Regions from separate parts of the Homo sapiens genome. Here all the other regions are linked to region 3. Evidence: fine-mapped expression QTL. A gene starts in region 3. Each other region holds a variant in brackets. All regions are shown on one strand. Distances are from middle to middle. Region 1 overlaps MICU3 (mitochondrial calcium uptake family member 3). Region 2 overlaps MICU3 (mitochondrial calcium uptake family member 3). Region 3 holds the start of MICU3 (mitochondrial calcium uptake family member 3).

Region 1 (5,000 bases), 74 kb before region 3:
TTCATCTGTAGAACTCAAAACAGTGTTTATAATTTTGACACTGACAGACTGTATTCAACAGTTGCACAATATACTCATCATACTGCACTAAGAATTTATTATATATGATTTTGGTTAGAAAGTAGTCTTAGCTCTGATATTCAAATTTTCATTATATGGTTTCACAGTAATTGGAGACACGGAGTTTTACTGTAATTTTAAAAATCTATGGTTAGAAACAGCTCCAGACTAGAATATGAGGGGCTAATAACCCAATTTCCCTATAATAAACAGATTTTATCTCAATAATTACATATTAAATATATAATAAAGAAATACATATAACAAATAGATTTCCAAGCCTTCTTTCTGAACCAATTTGAATCCTGAAATACTAATACTATAAACAATTCTGTGTTCCGCTGGTATTCACAGTAACCTATAAGGATTTATATAATTAGTTGTAACTGAACTGTAGTTAATTCTCAATTATTATTCTAATGTGGGAGGGTAGTAACAGATAAACCCCAAGTAATTATTTTACTCTGGAACACGATATAAGTTTTCTTTTCTTTTCCTCTTTTTCCTTTCTTGATTGTCTCCATCAGATTTACTTTCATGAAATTTGATTCAATTCATTCATTAATTTAGCAGCTTTGGATCAGAGTGTGGATTAATTACAGCCAATAGTGTGCTGGCAAACTGAGTTGTCCGGGAAAAAAAAAAAAGGCTGATTTGTAATGTTGGCCAGTTTCTGTGGTATTCATACTCCTATCACGGCCACTTTCAAGTAACAAAGGGGGTGTCACAGAATGTTGAGTTGGGAAGAGGTGTGCAGAATTAATTAGCTCTGGGAAGCTGTAAAAGCCCACAGCTCCTCCAGTCTATCTACAACAGAACCATATACCTTTTCCAAAGATCTTACAGAAATCATATAATTCTCTGAGTACACAGGAACTGACTGGTTTTCTGATATTAAACTTCCCAAGATTTAAATTAAATTCAACATCTGATTAGCAGATTTTGTCTAACTGAGAATGTCTACCAGAGTTAAATGGGATGAAGATAGTTGGAGGCTGGAAGGTGGATACTCTAGTATGGGGAGAGACAACAATGATATGACTGTTGATTTGAAGCATGGAAACTAGGACACAGTTGACTTGTATGCACTCTAAGAGTCCCAGTTGCTCTTATTTTTAAGCACTGACTACTACAATGTGCCTACATAATGATTACAAAATAAAGTGCTTCTAAAATATCTGTAAAGGGAACATCTGCCACTTCATACCTAATCATGGCTCATATTGAAAAGGTAATTTTAAAAGGTAATTGTTGGTCATAATTACATCACATTTATATATCACAGACATATTAAACATAGGACAAAATACTTTAATTGCTTTGGGACTTTAAAACTGAGCAAGGGCGACAAAATTAACATTTTCAAGTGTTTGCCCTAGTCTAGATATGTCAATAGAGTAACATTGTATATATGGATAACAGAAGTCACAACTGATTCCAGTTTACTTCTCCAGATATTTTCAGGTGTAACTTCTAAAAGTTAAATTTAAAGTTTAGAAAAAGAAATGAGAAGCCCACTGTAAAGAGAAAGAGATAATGAAAAACAAATCTCAGTATTTATTGAAAAGTCTTTTCTGGTAAGACCGCTAGCTGCCTCTAATAAAGTTCTTAGGAAAAATTCTTAATAAGAAACACAAAACAGTTTTTCTAAGATATGGCCCATCTTGAGAAACTAGAAATCTCTATTGACAGTGGTGTAAGAATGGGATAATGGAAGCAGCCCACTCCGATGCAGCAGTACGATGCAGATCTGTAACAAATTCATAAACAGTAATAGAACTGAAATAAGGTCGGTCTGCTTTTTATTTTCACTATGCACTGGCAATCTTAATGTCAAGGTAAAATATTCCTCCCTTCCTTGACTGGCTGTTCCTACCATACCTTCTCAAACTCCCATACCCCAGGCCCTTGGTAAGCCACTCACTATCAATACTAGGAAATTTGTTTAAATCTAACATAACTCTGAAGAGTCAGGTATCTTTTACTGGGGGAAACATTTCAGCATTTCATGTAACATGGTAAATTGTAAGCTTAAAAGATTCAGTGAAACTTTAAAATATATATATTCTAATTTCTAGAAAGTGATCCTTAAGTTAAAAAAAATGCCATTTCCTTTTAATTAAGTTCAACTGTCAAAGCTGATGTATTCAAATACACAGTTTATATATAGTAATTTTTGCTGTACTAAAACAATGGAAAATGTAACATACATGTTGGGTTTCATCACTGTGACTAAAATGAAATGACGACTAGATTAACAAGATGGCAAATAGTACAAGGACCTTGTTGAGGTTTAATTATACCTCTGCGAGGTCTGAAAACAGTGCTTGGCTTGTGTTACGTCTCAGTGTATCCCAATAGCTTCTGGAGACAAGTTCCTCAGCATCTGTTTTAAGTACCTGTAGAAGTTTTAAGAAGCACAACTGAAATCTAAAGAATAGTTACAAAGAATGATAATTTATACACTTTAAATCTAACCAACCTTGAAAAGGAAACACATTAGCTTACCTTTTTTTGTTTGTTTGTTTTGTTTTCTGCTGTGCACCACAGTATTGTATTACACTGCTGGTAACTCACATACTTTCAAAGGTGTAATGGTATATAACCACTATTT[G/C]TAAGTACAATGTAGCTTTGTCGAAAAGAATCAAATTCTCCGATCTCTCCTTCTGCCCCTCTACTGAAACGTGTGTAACTTCTAAGAAAGGGTGAAAAAAAATTCTATTCACACCTTGTGTGAAGTAAATTTGTTTGGGAAAAATTTTGGTAACTTTGTAGCAACCTATTAAAAGATACATTATTGCTGGCTATCATTTATCTTGCTAGTGTATCAAAGACTCAAAATAACTTTATCTATACTTTACAGAAACAAAGTTTAAATTCATCCCAAACTTGTCAAAAAGAAATAGACCTGTTTTAAGTCAAAGCACTCAAAACTACTTGAGATTTGGCAGGTGTTTCTATTGTGAATGGTTACGGTACTACTTATTATTTATTACAAGGACAGGATACTAAATTCTGAGAACAGGGTAGTCTGAAGGAGATATCAGGAAGTGTAGATTAAAAAGTGTAGTCTAATCACTCTAGGAAGATGTCAAACTGCAAGCCTAACTTGGATCCCCATAAACAAAAATAATTAAACCCAGTTTCTGTCAGGATTTATCAGGGAAGATTTCACAGGTTCTCAGGTGGTCTTTTGGTTAATGTGAGATGAAATGCTGCATGGTGTACTCAAGAGTGGCTGGATGAAAACAGAACTTTTCTTTCTTTCATTTTGCCTTAATCTTTAAAAGTCCAGTGCTCCTAATAAAATTATATGCATCTAGGAATTATTTCAAAGGTCCTCTAAGTTTCAATTCACTATTACTAACTAGAAACACTGCCCACTGCCTATATTTTAATAAAATCTTAATAAAATGTAAATAAAGTATTATTTAGCAGGAACCATTTACATAACACAGACATAAATATTACCATAACTATAAATGTAGCAAATTGACAGAGAATCTGCATCACTCCCTTTATAATAATATAAGCTTTAACTAAGCAGTTATAAACTAAACAGGGAAGACTAGCTAAATATAGAACTAATACAGTTCATTTTATTTTATATAGATATGGAATAACCTCAATAAATACTAGCTAGATCAAATGATTGATCTGAAAATATTATTCACATATTTTGAATGTGGATGCGTTTTAAAAGTTCAACTCAGAAGGTTAATATGTGATAAAGAAAGGGATTGTTAAACCCACCAAACTAGAAAATAAGGCTTACTGTGCACTACTGTTAGAAGAGTAGCAGGAATGATTCACTTTGTGAAGCCATGCCTCATCCTTACTTCCAAACACTGTCCACAATCACACACACACACACACACACACACACACACACACACACACAAATATATTTAGAACGTATTAAGAACTAAAATTAGTTTAACCAACCATGTATTTTGTGGACAAGAAAAAGAAGTAAATATATTAATTATTTCCAAATGTTGGGGTTAGGATATTTTAAATTTTCTTCTTGCTTTGCCATATTTGAAAATATTTTGAAAATGTGTATTTATCTATTAGGATAATATACAACTTTTCAAATTTAAAAAATCTTATTTAGAACGTAACAGTTTTACAAGTGTCCTGCTGCAGAAAGCTTTCTGGTTCATCATTTAGCCTCAGGGATTAAACAATGCTAGGATATACTACTGAATTGCTGTAACTGGATATATTTGTTTTTGTTTTATCTTACATCATCTTTTAAATAATTATAAAGTTTCTGAGGGCAGAAACAACATCCTTACAGCAACTACTGCTGCAGGAAAAAACAGCTAATAAATCAGTGATATGCCTGGCACACTCACTGATTCCTATATATGTAACTGTTCTGGAGACAGTTTTAAATGTTTTAAACAATTTGAACGATGAAGTTAAGAGCACATTCTCAGAATATGCAAACTAGTAGGAAGTTTTATCACCACGAAAATATAATACAGTAAGGATATTTTACATAAGCTTAAAGTAGCAATGAAAGTCAGACTAGATTTTAATAGCAAGAAATGCAAAGCAAATATAAAACCAGAACATATCTATGCATACAGGCTAAGTAAGGAAAGGCTGACAGAGAAAAATGCCCAGGTGTAACTGGACACTTTGATGGCTGTGAAACAGACAACTATGATGCTTTGATATGTAAATAGTAGACCAATACGCAAAGACTTCCTGAAGTTTTCTCGGTTATCTTTGTTTGCTATCTGAGCTACTGGCCCCTTTACCAGATGTCATGTAAAATGTGTAGACCTTCATTAAAAGAGGTAAAAGAATATACAGTTAGGTAGCCCAGAACTTCACAAGTGAAAGGCACAGCCAAAATGATGTCCTGCATGTAGTGTGCCCTGTAAGTGTGACACATTTTTTGCTTAAGTTCAGAGTCTGTTATTGAT
Region 2 (5,000 bases), 55 kb before region 3:
TTTCTGCTTTCAAATTATCTTCAATGCTTCTATTAAATGTACCCTGAGGAGTTTTTATTGTAATTAAATGGCTTATACTTTCTGTACATCGCATCCTGAGTTCTCAGTAACTCCATACTTGCAAATTTCAAAAGGAGTGCTTTTGAAGTAAATAAAAAAGTGCATTCTGTTACTTGAATTCTTGCTTTTGGAATACAAAACCCAAAACTAGATTTAGTGCTTCAACTGACCTTCCAAGTAGATACTGAGAAGATTGACATCAGTAATCTGTATCTACAATACTTATTTAGATATCAGATAGTTCTGACGCTTGGTAAAAGGGTATAAAAATCCTTAAAATAACCAGATTGTGAACTTTAAAACTCCATTTTATCTGATGTTCTTTGAGGCTGTCTTCTTTGTTACAGAACAAAGAGAAGAGGAGTCACTGTCAGGCAGTTTGTCAGAGACATGAAGGGCACTAGCCAGGAGGCCCTGAAAGCATTCATTCCCTTCTTTTGTTTATACTAGAATATTGTGACCTATAGACAGATAGTTCTGGTTGATTGCCATGAATGTTATGGGAGAAAGATTCTGGAATGGTCAATGTATATAAAGATACAATACTTAAGAGTCTGTAGGGATCCCTCAAAAAATGAAAGAAGAGCATAAAAGAAGGGGCGAGAAAAGGAAATGGGATGGGAAATGGGCATGCTGTCTCCATAATCCCATCTCACTAACTGTTGTTCTAGTTGACCTGGTAGAATACACAAGAGATGTTGGTTGGTATAAAGAACTTTAATAACTGTTATGCATCTTTTATTTGATAGTTAACTCAAGATTTCCCTCAAGGAAAGGACTACTTAATAGTGAGTGTCCAGACCATGAATATCATGGTAGGCGTTTGTCTGTAGGATCACATGGTGATTGAAGTGGCTTAAACCACAGGGAAGAAAAATGAAGTGAAACCCATGATATATTATAATTTAATAAAAATGGTCAAGGAAAAGAGAAAATACTACTGAAGATGAACGGTATATTTTTAATGCTTTCCAATTATACAAACAGAATACTATAAAACTAACTCTTCAATTTATTTATGGCGTGCAGGATCAAAAAATACAAAAAAAAAAGCTAGGCATATAGTAATGGTGTGATCTTTAGAAACAGAGGATAAGAAAGATGCCAACTAGGTTTCTTTCGAAAATTCAATCAAAACAAATTTTAAGGGAAGTTCCTTAAAAGCATTACATGGTTTAATTCCTATACACAATACATTGCAGTTGGCTGTTATAATTAAGTCTCTACAATACATGTTTTCATGAATGCATATCAATTTTTTTATTATTTAAATGCATAACATTTTCTCTCGAGGTAATATTTTAAGTAGATAAACTTACAATTTTAAAATTAGTCTTTAGCCAGGCATGGTGGCTCACACCTATAATCTCAGCACTTTTGGGAGGCCGAGGCAAGAGGACCGTTTGAGTCCAGAAGTTCAAAACCAGCCTGGGCAACAAAGTGAGACTTTGTCTCTACAAAAACTCAAAAAATGAGGGGGAAGAATCGCTTAAGCCCAGGAGGTCAAGGCTGCAATGAGCCATGATGGCACCACTGCACTCCCGCCTGGGTGACAAAATGAGACCCTGACTCAATAAATAAATAAAATAAAACAAAAATAAAAATAAAATTAGTCTTCAATAGCTCTAAAGATTTAGTCTTAAAATTTCTCTGCCACTTAATCGCTATTTAAAAAAAGCAAGGCTCTTCTAACTTCTCTATTTTACCTAACCTAATGATTCTAAAACTTTCTGGGATCATGCATCACCCTGATGATCTAATTAATATGATACAGATACGCATTGTACTACAGGGTGTAGCTATTTAAATTTAAAATACTTAAAATCAAATACAACTAAAAATAAGTTCCTCAGTTACGCTAGACACATTTCAAGTGCTCAACAGCCATATGCGGCTAGTAGCTACCATAAGAGACAGCATAGAAACAGAGTATTTCCGTCATAGTGGTGCAGCATAGATTCTATCCCCTGGGGAAAAAAATGCAAAC[ATG/G]TGTATAACATGAGAAGGATTAGGATATGCCTAAACCTAGGACTTCCAGATTAAACCCTCCCCTTAACTTAAAAAAGGTTCTTTCTTCTATGCATTATTTTTCTCAGATTATATTTGATCCAATTTGTATTTTCCCATGAGGTATATTAAGAAAAATGTTTGAAATTCACCATACTTACTTGATCCTTATGAGCTTTGAATTTTCCTCATCCTATTATCTCACCCTAAGATCTGAATGGCAATCTTTAAGACAACATCTAGGAAAAAAATTTCTAAGATTTTTTTTAAGACACTTTGGCCTAGGTTTCTTGAAGATTTAAAAATCTTACTTATGAAACACCTACAATAAAAGATATGGTGTCTCTTCCTTTCAGATTCTATGTAAACCACGTGGAAGCAATATGAACTTTCTAATTCTACTTAAATAAAATATATGAATTATAACTACTCCTTCAAAGTATTTGTCTTCAGGCTGAAGTACATTATTTTCAAGCCAATATTGGTTAAAATTGATGAAAAGGGAAAATATAACTGCTTATGTAATTTCTTTAACATTTTTATTTTGCATATTCCTGTATTTGAGGATACAAAAAATACATTTCCAAGAAATATTACTTTTTAAGATTAAAAAGATTAATAAATTTTTTCTACAAATGTGTAAAAAGGTACCCTGTAAAAGAAAATTACAATAAAAGCCATATAATTTGATTGCCAGGAAATGTTTAAATTAATGAATTAAGCTAATATTGATATTGATAATAGAGTAAGTTGAAACAGGTATATTTGCAGTAAGTGTTGGCCTTTAAAGGAAACATGTCCAAATTAGGCTGTCAAAGGACACATCCACTAAATTTTTCCTGTTAATTAGTTTAGGAGCATCTATAATTCACTCAGAGCAAAATGGAAGGAAGAAAAATAGACCTTTGAAGATCTAGTATTTTTGTGAAATGTTTTCTTTGGGTAAATATAAAATATACTTTTTGATATGGTTGAAGAACAATTTTTTAAACTATGTAAGTCCAATCTGATATAAAAAAATTTGGAAGATACAAATAATATATAAACAATAACATGAAAACCACCCTTAATGAAGGGTGGAATTACCCAAGAGCAACATTAATACCCAGAAATGTTAATATTTTGCTGTTTTCTTCTTCAGTTTTTTCTCTATGCATACACATAGATGTAATTTAAAAATTATTTTAGGTATGGGAAAATATGCATATATAAATAGTATACATAATATAGTTTAAAAAAAGAACAAGTACTAAGGTTAACTCACCTTTTTCTTTAAGATTTCGAAATAGCTTCGATGAGCCTTTCCAAACTGGTGGTGTTTCTGCGAGCATTTGATTTAATTCCTATGACAGAAGTTATACTACTGATGAATTGGTAAACAACTTACTAATAAAATAGATCAAAAACATGTTTAAATGTCCATGCCAAATTCTCCACTTAAAAGACCTGAAACATGGCATTATTTATCCTATGTTATGCCTGTGGTTCATTCAAGCACACAACCCAGTATTTGCCCACAGTTCAAACATAAAATAAATGATGAAGAGGCTACATTAAATTTAATTAGAGCTAACTAAAATTTCAGATAAGTTGAATAACGGGAGGTTATACATAAGACAACCAAATCAAGATAAAACAGTGAGTTTAAGTCCTGGAGCCAGTTATAAAGGAATCGTTTTAGGAAAATCATGGAAAAACATGGATTTCCATATCAAGGTCGGAGATGGTCACATCACCCGGCTTCACGTAATGTCTCTTCTTTGTAACACATTTGGAATTAGAGAACTTTGTGTAGAGGAAGTAAATGAACAAAGAATTATGTTAGAAAGGAATGAAGAGTATTTTAACGGTTAGTGACTTAGAGAATGATAACAATGGATGAAGCAGAAAGACAAGGGTACTGAGTTATTGTGGTCACTGTTTCAATTTGTTTCTAATTTTAACTTAAATATTAAAGAACACAGACTTCAACTGCTGCTTAGCTTTTTCTTTTTTAAAAAACTCAAACTATCACTGCTGCTCGGAAACTACTGGAGAATTTAGACATTTGAATCATTACTCATATGCTAAATCAATTTTGAATTTATTGTGTATAGTCTGTTAAAAACGACTAAGTGAAAACTATAATTTGATTAATTGTGAAGAAAAATGATTAAAAGACGGTGAGATAACTTGAAATAATTTGAAACAACAAAGTTAGTCTGCTTAGAAACACATTAGACAAACACAGAACCCACTTCTATTTTCAGATCTGACACCCACTCCTCAGAGCATGTGGCTCCCCAATAGTTTAAGCATCACCTGAGAGCTTGTGCGAAATGCAGAATCTCAGTGCCCATCCCAGACCTACTGAACCACAACCTGCATTTTTAACAACATCTTCTAATTTTTACACACATTGAAGTTTGGAAGGCATTTCAGACAAACCATTTCTGACGCAGCTGTACCTAAAAATGCTTTCTGACATTTATAAATCATTTTTGTTTAACTGCAAAGCTGAGCTAGCAGGAAGAAAAATTCTTGGTATGTCAAAGGCAGGAACAGCATTTTTAGGGGATTTATGGACACCTTGAAGCCCATATGTGGATTCTTGTGTTTGTGTTTTTCATGTTTCTGTATCTGCACTGCAGGTAAAAGATGCCAGCAGATAATCAGTGCATCTGATTATAGAATAGGAATGGCACAGAATAATTCAGGTCCGAATTGTAATGAGAAACTGGGATGTTTATTGTTTAGACAACAGTAAACTCAAATATTTTTGTTAGATTGAGAGATTAAATAAAACATTCTGGGTGGGACTCAGTGGCTCAGGCCTATAATCTCAGCACTTTGGGAGGCTGAGGTGGGTAGATCCCTTGAATCCAAGAGTTTTAGACCAGCCTGGGCAACATGGCAAAACCCCATTTCACAAACAAACAAACAGACAAACAATT
Region 3 (10,562 bases):
CCACCACGCTCAGCCAAAAAATAAATTTATTTAATGTTCTTTAGTAGTACCATTGTTTTAAATATACTGTGTTAACTCATTTAACTCTCATAACACCCCAGGAGACTATTAGCCTCATTTCACAGGTGAGGAAACAGGCATTGACAGGTCAAGTAATTTCTCCATAATGACACAAGTAGCAAGTCGTGGAGCCAAAGTTCTAGCTTTCTGAACGTGGTCTTTTTAAAAACTGCAAGATAACATCTCTCAACTGTAAAAGTAAAATTAATTTTAAGAAAGAAAAGAAAATACTACTTGAATTCCCTACCTTGCTGATCTGTTCCTAGACCAACTATGGTTAATTAAAAGTTCTGCCATCATGAAAAACGCTATGCTCCTTGCCAAGCCACAAAAGTGGATGTGTATTTGTGAAGGGGGAGGGGGTGGAGATTTGAGGGTATTTCCTAGTATTTTGAATATTCATGTGTAAAAGGACTTTATGTTATGTGCTTGTGATCTGCTGCTAGATAGTCCATAAAGCAGATTCCGTAACCTAATTGCATTGACAACCTCCACCAAAGGAAATGATGCACTTACATCAGATCACCACTGCGTATTAAGAACAAAGCCTATAAAAATTGCATTAGAAACAGCATAGCTCTCTGTTTTCTAAATTATTTTCATCTACGCCGTTCACATTCTTCGAGCCTTGCAAGGAAAATCTCCTTAATTTTCCTAGTCATTTACATGACTATTAAATATACTGATGCGACAAAAAAAATCACGCTCCTTTACTCACTGTTGCCTTTCACACATCTTTACCTTGTATTATTAACTACATAATGACAGTTGAACATTTTCACGTGACTTTCTTCTGTAGGAGTTTGTGTCATTCACAGCCTCCTACATTTGCTATCCTATCCATTTTGTGTTTTATCGTTACCTACTAACGGGATTCTGGCTTTAGTGGGGGAAGGAAAAAGAGAGAAATACTTATGTCTCTTTTTGAACAATTTTTTATTTCTTTTCAGACCTGGTAACATCAACATTCCCTGGGTATGATAAGGGCGTTAGCATGCAGGTTTAGCATTTCCTTTCTTGGGACTAATAAATTCTCATATGCTAAAGTAGTGGCTTTTGAGATCTCAGACCGCTGCTTCGAAACTCATTCTAATGCAACAGACCTCCTGGGTCATTAGCTGTCGCCCCGCGCAATCTAGGAGTTCCTTTTTCCCACACCTACAGCGGTCCACTTTCTGCCTGTCATGGCCTTCATTTCTGAATCTTTTTTTGTAAGAGGGGGAGGGGTGTTGGTTTTGGGTTTGGATTGATACTTGGTAGCTGCAGCCACCTTTAAGGTCCTGATGCATCAGGGACAGCATCACTGGTCTTCCCAATACGTGGGTGACCGGATCCTAGGCTGTCCGGCCTAGGTGTCAGCCTCGCTCACGGGAAGTTCCTCACCCGCGGCCACAGCGCTTGCACCGTCCCCACAGCCTCCAGGGTCCTGCGTACCCGGCACGAAGGTCACATCCCCCGCGCAGGTGTGACGCGCGCTCGCGCACTCACCGTCTCCTTGGCAGCCGCCACTGGGATGGGCAGCATCCCCCGGCCGCGGGGCGGGTCCTCGGGCTCCGTGGCCGCGCTCTTTGAGGGTCGCCCGGTCGCCGGCGAGCCGGCCCTGGGGTCCCCGTACAGCTGGTAGCATACCAGGCCGACCAGCCCCCCGCCGGCCGCCGCCGCCACGCTCAGCTCCCCCCAGCGCCGCCGCCGCCTCCATGCCGCCTCCGCCACAGCCCTCTCCTCATCCTCTCGGGAGGAGAAGGGCCGGCCAGGAAGGCCCAGGGTGGTCACCGCAGGCCGCCCCCACGGCCCAAGGAGGGGCTGGTGAGCGCAGAGTGGAGGAGACACCCGGGGTGGCGGCCACAAGAGCCTTCGCAGCGCAGCCATAGCGGAGGCCGCCCACACCAGAGCTGGGAGGGGGCAGAGAACGGAGGGGCGGGGGCGGGGGGGGGGGTCGCCGAAATCTCGCGAGAAGTCGGTGCCGCGAGCTTCGCGGCCGGCCGAGAGCGACCCCTACACTCGCGCGGCCCCGGGGACCCGCGACGCCACCTTCAGCGTAGCGGTCCCGTGGTTCGGCCCGGGAAGATCATGGAAGAGGCGGCGGATCCCGGCTGCTCCCCGGCCCCGAACCCCCAGCCCAACCACGCAGTCATAAATAACCGCGCCAGCCCGGCGACACCTGGCTACGCGACAGCGCGACACTGCGGGCACAGCCGAGTCAGCGTAACTGAGGCGCGGCCGAGTGCGGGGCTCTCTGGGGCCCGCGCCGCTGCTACGGGCGGGGTGGGTCTCCGAGCTGGGCTCAGCGCCCGTCTGGGACACTCACATTCCCTAACGGTCTCCTGACCTCAGGAAACTCAAGGTCTTGACTCAAGGTCGTGAACGATTTGCAATTGTATCTTCACATATACGACACAAATGAGGTATAAGCATTTGGCTCAAGTCATAACGATTGCAAATTAAGGCAAACACTTTGACGACTGAAGGGCAGCTTCCGGACTTTTGATGGGAGAAGGCTAATGCTGTTTTTTAGAAGCATTAGCACACCCGCGGTCACTTAATTCAACAAATCAGAACTGTCTTGTGCATATAAAAGTTAAAAATTTTAAAACTTCTGTGAATAAAGATAAAATCTTGAACGATACCCTGATTTTTCAGGGAAGCGCTGTTTGTATAAATATAAAATAAATGAGAAGCGTATTGTGTCATCTTTTTGTTTTTACTGTACTTTTTGTTTGCTATGTTATCAGTATCAGTTTTTATGAGAAAGTGTAGATGAAGTTCCTATCAGTTTCTCTCCCCAGACCCCAGTTTTGGTAACTTGAATTATGTTAGCTTTTTCTTCCTACTATGGAATGGTGCCAGGAGTCCCTAAAATATTGTGGATCTAAGGGGACAGACAACTAAATACAGTGGTCTCAATTGGGCTGCAGTGACAAGAGAATACACCATCAGTTGATTCTGGCAATTCTTGTAAAGACTAAAGGCTTTCAGAGACGACCAAATGAGTTTTTTCTGGCTCAGGTCCTACAATTTCTTCCCTTTTTTTTTTCTTTTTTTGAGACGGAGTCTTGCTCTGTTGCCCAGGCTAGAGTGCAGTGGCACATTCTCGGCTCACTGCAACGTCCGTCTCCCTGGTTCAAGCGATTCTCCTGCCTCAGCCTCCCGAGTAGCTGGGATTACAGGCACCCGCCACCGTGCCTGGCTAATTTTTGTGTTTTTAGTAGAGATGGGGGTCTCACCATCTTGGCCTGGCTGGCCTCGAACTCCTGGAGGTCCTGCAATTTCTATTCCTAACACCTTGCATGTAAATAGCACATCAGGTACACCCTGTTACCTCTTATTTTAATAGAGGTTAATGGCATTTTGCTTTCTTAAAGCTGCTAAAAGCGGTAAGAAGAAAAATCTTCTGTAGCAGATGAACAAATTTTGTGTATTTTAAAACCTGTCTCTGAGTTTTCTTCAGTTTCAGCCTGTGGGTTTTATGGAGTCAATGCCTAAGGAAGACTCTGATAGCGTCTTGCTTTATCACCAAATTTTCCTCAATTTATGCTTTCTCTATATTCTGTGAAATGGTAGTTTCCCCAAATAAATTATCTTCTGGGTAATAATTATATATATTATATATAATATAATAATCATATTGGCCGGGCGTGGTGGCTCACACTTGTAATCCCAGCACTTTGGGAGGCCGAGGCGGGTGGATCATGAGGTCAGGAGATAGAGCCCATCCTGGCTAACACGGTGAAACCCCATCTCTACTAAAAATACAAAAAACTTAAAAAAAAAAAAGCCAGGTGTGGTGGCATGCGCCTGTAGTCCCAACTACTCAGGAGCCTGGGACAGGAGAACTGTTTGAACCCGGGAGGTGGAGGTTTCAGTGAGCCGAGACTGTGCCGCTGCACTCCAGCGTGGGTGACAGAGCGAAACTCTGTCTCAAAAAAAAAAAATTATAATAATAGTTCTGACACTGTTTACTTTGAACTGAACATGATTTCCTGATTTTCTCATAAATTCTTATTATAGTCTAATGCCAGAATTCTTGGACAAACTGATCAATTTTTACTAGTTGCATGTTAAAAGCTAAGTAGTTCTAAAGAAGATTAGGGAGGTAATACAATAACATCACATTACAGATGAGGAAAATGACATCCTTCATCTAAGATGACAAATACAGACACATACGTATAGATTTCTATGTAGTTTCTCTATAGTTTTCTAAATTTGATAGAGCTCCTGCAAACAATTTATCTGGTTAGAAGCTAAGTACTGCTGTGAGAAGGGCTAAGTTTATGTTTGTAGATCAGTCAGAGAACTTTGGATAAAATACCTCTCACGTGCAAAAACAGCTTTACTAATAATTTTCAACAGTACTTTCCCTCTAAAGGTGAAATTTCCTTAAGAATAGTTACTGTTTTCTTCCCACGTTTGATGCTCTGTAACTATAGCTACACAAAAATAACCAAATTCCCTTGTTATGTGGATATTTTTCTGAGTTTAATTCCCAGAGGAAAAATTTTAAGAAAATATGATATTAGGAATTTGGAACCTTTTTTTTTTGAAATTTCAGGTAATATTGTTGGATCAATATAGAGTCAACCCAGTATCCCTTATCTTTTATGTCAATTCTACTGAGCATTAAGAATAACCCCCAAAATGCCCCTACTCCACAGTGAGAGCCCACACCTTGAAAGAAATATCCACTTATCGTTCACTATGGTCTAAATAAAAAGAAATGTTCTGAAACAATAAAAATGTTTCAAACAATGGGGATTAAGCCAAAAAGGGTTTTCCAGGAAAGCATATACCTCAGTGAATAAGTAATAAATTAGAAGTGAAGAAATCTGGACTCCAGTCTTGGATTTGCTGCATCTTAATTATAATGCTTTGGAAGCCACAGTCTCTAAAATAGTGGAGTTGAAATAGATGATCACCCCTGAACCCATCTTTCTAATGAACTAAAATGCTCCAAGTGTATCAGTAAACCATAGAAAGATACTTCATGGTATTTTTCATGTATCATTTCTCTTCTGAAAATCTACAATTGGCCTAAGATTGTTTTATTCTTTCAACTTAAAATTCCATCCCCGGACCACGCAGGCTAACGTCTGTAATCCCAGCACTTTGGGAGGCCAAGGTGAGTTGATCACTCAGGAGTTCGAGACCAACCTGGGCAATATGGCAAAACTTCGTCTCTACAAAAAATACAAAAATTAGCCAGGCATAGTGGTGCGTGCTTATGGTCCCAGCTACTCGGGAGGCTGAAATAGGAGGATGGCTTGAACCGGGGAAAAGGAGGTTGCAGTAAGCCATCACTGAGCCACTGCACTCTAGCCTGGGTGAGAGAGCAAGACTATGTTTAAAAAAAAAAAAATCCATTCCTTTATCTAATTATTTTAACCTTCTACTGCATTTAAAATTGCAAATACGTTAGTGATTTTGAAAAGTTTGAAAAAGTGGAATATAAGTGCAATAGGCAGGAATGTCTTGTTTAACAAAACTTCTATTAAAATATACTGCATTCCTTATTTTGGTCATTCTGAGCTCCAGATTCTTGACTAGTTAAAAGAGCAGCAGTTACATCTGAGATCTGTATCAGGGCACATGAACCACCCCATCCCCAGGTCCACTCAAGTCTACCAGCAGAGAGCAAGGTTGCAACCATCTTCTTCTCTCTTGGGAAAGTTGTCATCATTTTCTCAAATTGCCTTCCACCTTCCATGCTGTCTTCCTTAGGGCAAAACTGACATAGGAGACAGTGTTGGGGAAGGTATGTTCTTGCTCTGTTTTCTTCAAAGTGCTACCCACCAGCAATCTAGAACTCAATTCCTCAGCATCCAGGGCTATGGAAACCAAGTTACACAAGACACTGAGGGTCTGTTTTCTGTTTTGATGAGCTCTCATTCCCAAAGACTGTGATCTGTATCTCACCCTTTTTCCATTAGGCAAAGCCAAGCTGACTCTAAGCAACATGAGGCCAGGGTATGCATCTTCTAGCCCAGTTCCTGGCACACATTAGGACCTCAATTATATTTACTAAATGAAAAGCAATGTCTTGAAAAGGGGGGAAGGTGGAGGTCAACATAGGAAGGCAAGTTAGGTGACAAGGAAATACAATGGCCCATCAGACACTAAACAAGCTGACAAACCAAGCAGCACATCAATGAGGAAATGCAATCAACACAGATGGGAGGCCAAAGGGAAAAAGCAAGGGACTGGCAAAGAAGGATCACAGATAGAGTGTGGGCTAGGTGAAGTGGCTCACACCTGTAATCCCAGCACTTTGGGAGGCCAAGGCAGGAGGATCATTTGAAGCCAGAAGTTCAAGGCCGGCCAGAGAAACATAGTGAGAACCTGTCTCTACAAAAATTAAAATTAAAATTAGCCAGGAGTGGTGGTGCATGCCTGCAGTCCCAGCAGCTCAGGAGGCTGAGGTGGGATGATTGCTTGCCCCAGGAGTTCGAGGCTGCAGTGAGCTATGATCATGCCACTGCACTCCAGCCCCTGGGTGACAAAGCAAGACCCTCTAAAAAAAGGGGAGGGGGGTGGACAACAAAGTATGATCATGCAGAAAGCTTGATTCAAGAACAGATTTTGTGATTTTCAGATTCTAGCACTGAAGTTATCCTGTTACTATGATTTGGCCGTATCCTCCTGGACTAGAGCCTTAAAGCCATAGGTTTTCCCCAAGGCTCTCTCCATTTTTTTTTTTTTCTAGGCGGAGTCTTGCTTTGTCACCAGACTGGAGCGCAGTGGCGCGATCTCGGCTCACTGCAACCTCCGCCTCCCAGGTTCAAGCAATTCTCCTGCCTCAGCCTCCCGAGTAGCTGGGACTACAGGCGAGCGCCACCATGCCCAGCTAATTTTTGTATTTTTAGTAGAGACGGGATTTCACCATGTTGGCTAGGATGGTTTCGATCTCCTGACCTCATGATCTGCCCGCCTCGGCCTCCCAAAGTGCTGGGATTACAGGCGTGGGCCACAGTGCCCAGCCGGCTCTGTCCATTCTTTTGGTCCTCCGAGGAAAATGCAGCATCATCCATGGCCAAACATCAGTGATTGACTGGCCACACCTCCCCTTTTGTTCTTAGATCTTTCACTGGGGACAATAACCAAGCTGGCAATTGTACACTTTTAACTACCTTTCCAGAGCAGTAACACCCTCGGTTTGACTACTACGTCTATCCAGTCTGTTTTACATAATTTCCAGGGTCTTTGTTGATGGTGTCTCACTGTTCAATTTCTGCTGTTTAAGTCCCACAATCCCCTGTGTCTTTGTTCTCCATTTGGTGGTAGTGACTTCTTATGTACTTGGGACACAGGCAATAGCAGGACGGACTTACTACCAGCAAAGCCTCCCACCGGAAAACAAGGAAGCTCTTTCTCAATTGTCTTTTCCTATTTTCATGTCTGATAGTGATTAAAGCTTCTATGTCCATTAAAAAGTGTCTTCTGGTGCAGAATAACCTCATAGTAACATAATGATCACCCATTACACAAGAGTGACACTTTGGTAGCAAAATGTTATGGGATCTTTGGGGTGTTGTTTTCCTGTCCAGAAACCTCTGTGGCCAGTGGTTCCTTTGCCTGAGTTTTGATTGGGCCCGCTGGGCTTAGCAGTGTCTACTGAAGCTGGACATATGCATATCCTATGACCCATTAATTTCACTTTTTAGGTGAAAGACTCATGAAAAGAAATGAGTACTTATGTCCATCAAAAGACATATACAGGAGGCTGGGCACAGTGGGTGGCTCATGCCTGTAATCCCAGCACTTTGAGAGGCCAAGGCGGGCAGATCACGAGGTCAGGAGATCGAGACCATCCTGGCTAACACGGTGAAACCCCATCTCTACTAAAATTACAAAAAAATTAGCTGGCTGTGGTGGTGGGCACCTGTAGTCCCAGCTAATCGGGAGGCTGAGGCAGGAGAATGGCATGAACCCGGGAAGCGGAGCTAGCAGTGAGCCGAGATCGCGCCACTGCACTCCAGCCTGGGTGACAGAGTGAGACTCCATCTCAAAAAAAAAAAAAAAAAAAAAGACATATAGAGGAATATTCATAGTAGCATCATTTCTAATTGGCAACAAACCAGAAACTATTCATATGTTCATCAACAGTGGCTTGGATTATTTAAAAATGTGGCATATTCACATAATGAAATGATATAAAGCAATGAAAATTACTGAATTGCAACTACATGCAATCACTGGGATAAATTTTAAAGCAAAAGTGAGGTAAAGAAGGCAGACACAAAAGAACCAACTTTATTACTCTATTTTAAAAGCTCAACAACAACAACAACAACAAATAGATATAAATAACATTAGACATTAGGATGGTGGTCTCCCTGGGTGCAGGGAAGTGATTAGAAGGCAGAAAAAGGAGCTTTGGGAGTTCTGTGTCTTGATATGGGTGCCAATGACACGTGTATTTACTCTATAAATATTCGTAGAGCTGTCCAGTTATAATTTCTATAACATTTTTATATACGTAACACTTCAATAAAAAGTTTATATAGAAGAAAACATAGATTTTCTTCCTAATGCTCTTATACTAATGTGTTATTTACTAGAGGACTTTGCTCAGTTATGAACTATACAACTTTAAAGGAATGTGTAGAGCTTGAAAAGAGTTCAACTAAGAACAATAAAATTGATTGAAGAATTGGAAACTAAAGGAAAAGTTTAGCTTATATAAGCTTGATATAGCCTGAGAAGATTTAACCAAGGAGTATTTTAATAAACATCTTTTACTACTTGAAGACTACTAAGAAGATACTATTAGTGATTTTTCGTATTTATTAAGGAAAAGACCAAAAGGAACTTTGTATTTTAAGCAAACAATGTAGTGTTTTAACTTCTTTAACTTGCAGCATTTTCTCCTCTGAAGCGTCCATATGGACAGAGCCAGTGGGTATGTGATCGTAAGGCCTAGTGCAACCAGTACATACCCTTGGTTCTGGCTCTAACCCCCGACTGTCAGGTGTTGGATGGGGAAATTGCTTCAGGAGCAGATAAACAAATAGAAGGGCAGTCTTCAGAACAGATGGAAAGCTCAGAATAAAGAGGGAGCCATTAGAGACATCAAGAATAGCATAAGGTTAGTCAGTGTACATACCTGCAGAAGTTTAGTGGGATGGCAACCAGTTTCATCCCCTGCCAACTTCAGTTGATTGATATTGGTTGTCCAGAACACTGTGCTAAGTAAAATTATCAGGCCAGGCCCAGAAATCACAGGAAAAAGTAGGTCAGTATCTCTGCTAAGACTGGGCTATCAGATTGGGACTGAGTTGAGTTAGTTGTAAGTCCACCGTGGTTCTTTGGAAACGCTCTACTAGGAGAAGATAATGCAAACAACAGTAGGAACAGAACAGCTGAAAAAAAAGTTCAAATGTTTTTGTAATATGCATGGCAACATTTAATATTTACCCTATAAAGTTATAGAAGACCAAAAATAATTTAGAGATAGCTCAGTCTGGGAATTTTCTAATCTTTCTAAGTTTTTGTTGGGGGGTGGTGGGCGTGGGGTGGGGAGGGGAGTGCTTAGTGAAAACTGTTTGCCAAAAGAAGTCTTGTTTCTTAAGCCCCAAAACACAAAGTAGATAACAGCAGAGTGTCTGTAGTGGAAAAGGAGGGAAATCCGGACCTTGTCCATTTAAAGATTCCTTTTCAGCTCTCACAGTGGAGCCTGAAGTAACTTTGTAGACTACTGGGGCTTAAATACCACTGAAATATACACTCGTTCCATTTTTACTGACTGACGAGGAAACTGAGAGGCTGCCAGGTTAAAGGATTTTCTTTGAGTTATACTACCAGAAATTGAGCCTAGATATTCTGCCCTACATCTAGATAGTTCCTGCATTACAATCATCAGAAACTGACGGAATTTAAAACCGTTTTTCTTAAGGCATATTAATTTCCAAGGAATCAAATAGCAATTGCATTAGCTCAAGTAAAAGACACATTTTAAGGATAAAATTATAGAGAATCCAGAGAAAAGTGGTACTATGAGGTGTCAGGAAGTGTGGTAACCGGGTCAGCTCTAGGGACCTACATCATAAGAGCTCAAGGACATTCATTCTAGCACACTGCTGTGAGCATGACTTGGCTACTAATTCTACCAATCTCTATGAATCTTAATGCAAATCCTAAAGAGAAAGCATTAGGTTGGTCTGGCCTATAGACGTTTTCTTCCTTTGTTAGTTTTTCACTCCTAGGCCAGCCAGCTGTGTCTGGGAGGAAAGGTGTGGAGTCATATGGAGATGCAGTTTCTGGGAAAGGGAGAACAACTTCCCTTAGAAGGCCCTGTGGGCAGGTATCAGTGATGTGCTGGTAAGGTGTTAACAATGGGTTCTGGGGTAGAAGAGGTGGGGAGTTCTGACTTGTAGTGTTTTCAGATTTCCATGGCGTAAATACTCCCACCGTGGTGATTTCAGGCTACCAATACGACATTACTGATTGCAGATTGGGAAGAGATGCATGGTAGCACATTACGTGGAATTTCCACTATCTACATCATA

Evidence for each region. PIP is the estimated chance that this variant, and not a neighbour inherited with it, causes the effect. A credible set is the group of variants that fine-mapping cannot tell apart.
Region 1: its variant is the best candidate, but not a certain one, in a credible set for the expression of MICU3 in prefrontal cortex (BrainSeq, PIP 0.79).
Region 2: its variant is the best candidate, but not a certain one, in a credible set for the expression of MICU3 in fibroblasts (GTEx, PIP 0.75).

What each region holds. Positions count from the first base shown.
Region 1 is chr8:17,095,917-17,100,916 of GRCh38, reverse strand. MICU3 (mitochondrial calcium uptake family member 3) reads right to left here. Exons shown (of 15, transcript NM_181723.3): 9 at 2,364-2,459. Among named protein-coding and RNA genes, the nearest start is that of ZDHHC2, 58 kb to the left of the region's middle. The variant G/C (reference allele first, on the strand shown) is at 2,675.
Region 2 is chr8:17,076,193-17,081,192 of GRCh38, reverse strand. It overlaps MICU3 (mitochondrial calcium uptake family member 3), which reads right to left. Exons shown (of 15, transcript NM_181723.3): 4 at 3,332-3,410. Among named protein-coding and RNA genes, the nearest start is that of MICU3, 51 kb to the right of the region's middle. The variant ATG/G (reference allele first, on the strand shown) is at 2,048.
Region 3 is chr8:17,018,647-17,029,208 of GRCh38, reverse strand. It overlaps MICU3 (mitochondrial calcium uptake family member 3), which reads right to left and starts at 1,971. Exons shown (of 15, transcript NM_181723.3): 1 at 1,549-1,971. The coding sequence starts at 1,929. RefSeq lists an enhancer at 1,344-1,433 and a silencer at 1,584-1,993.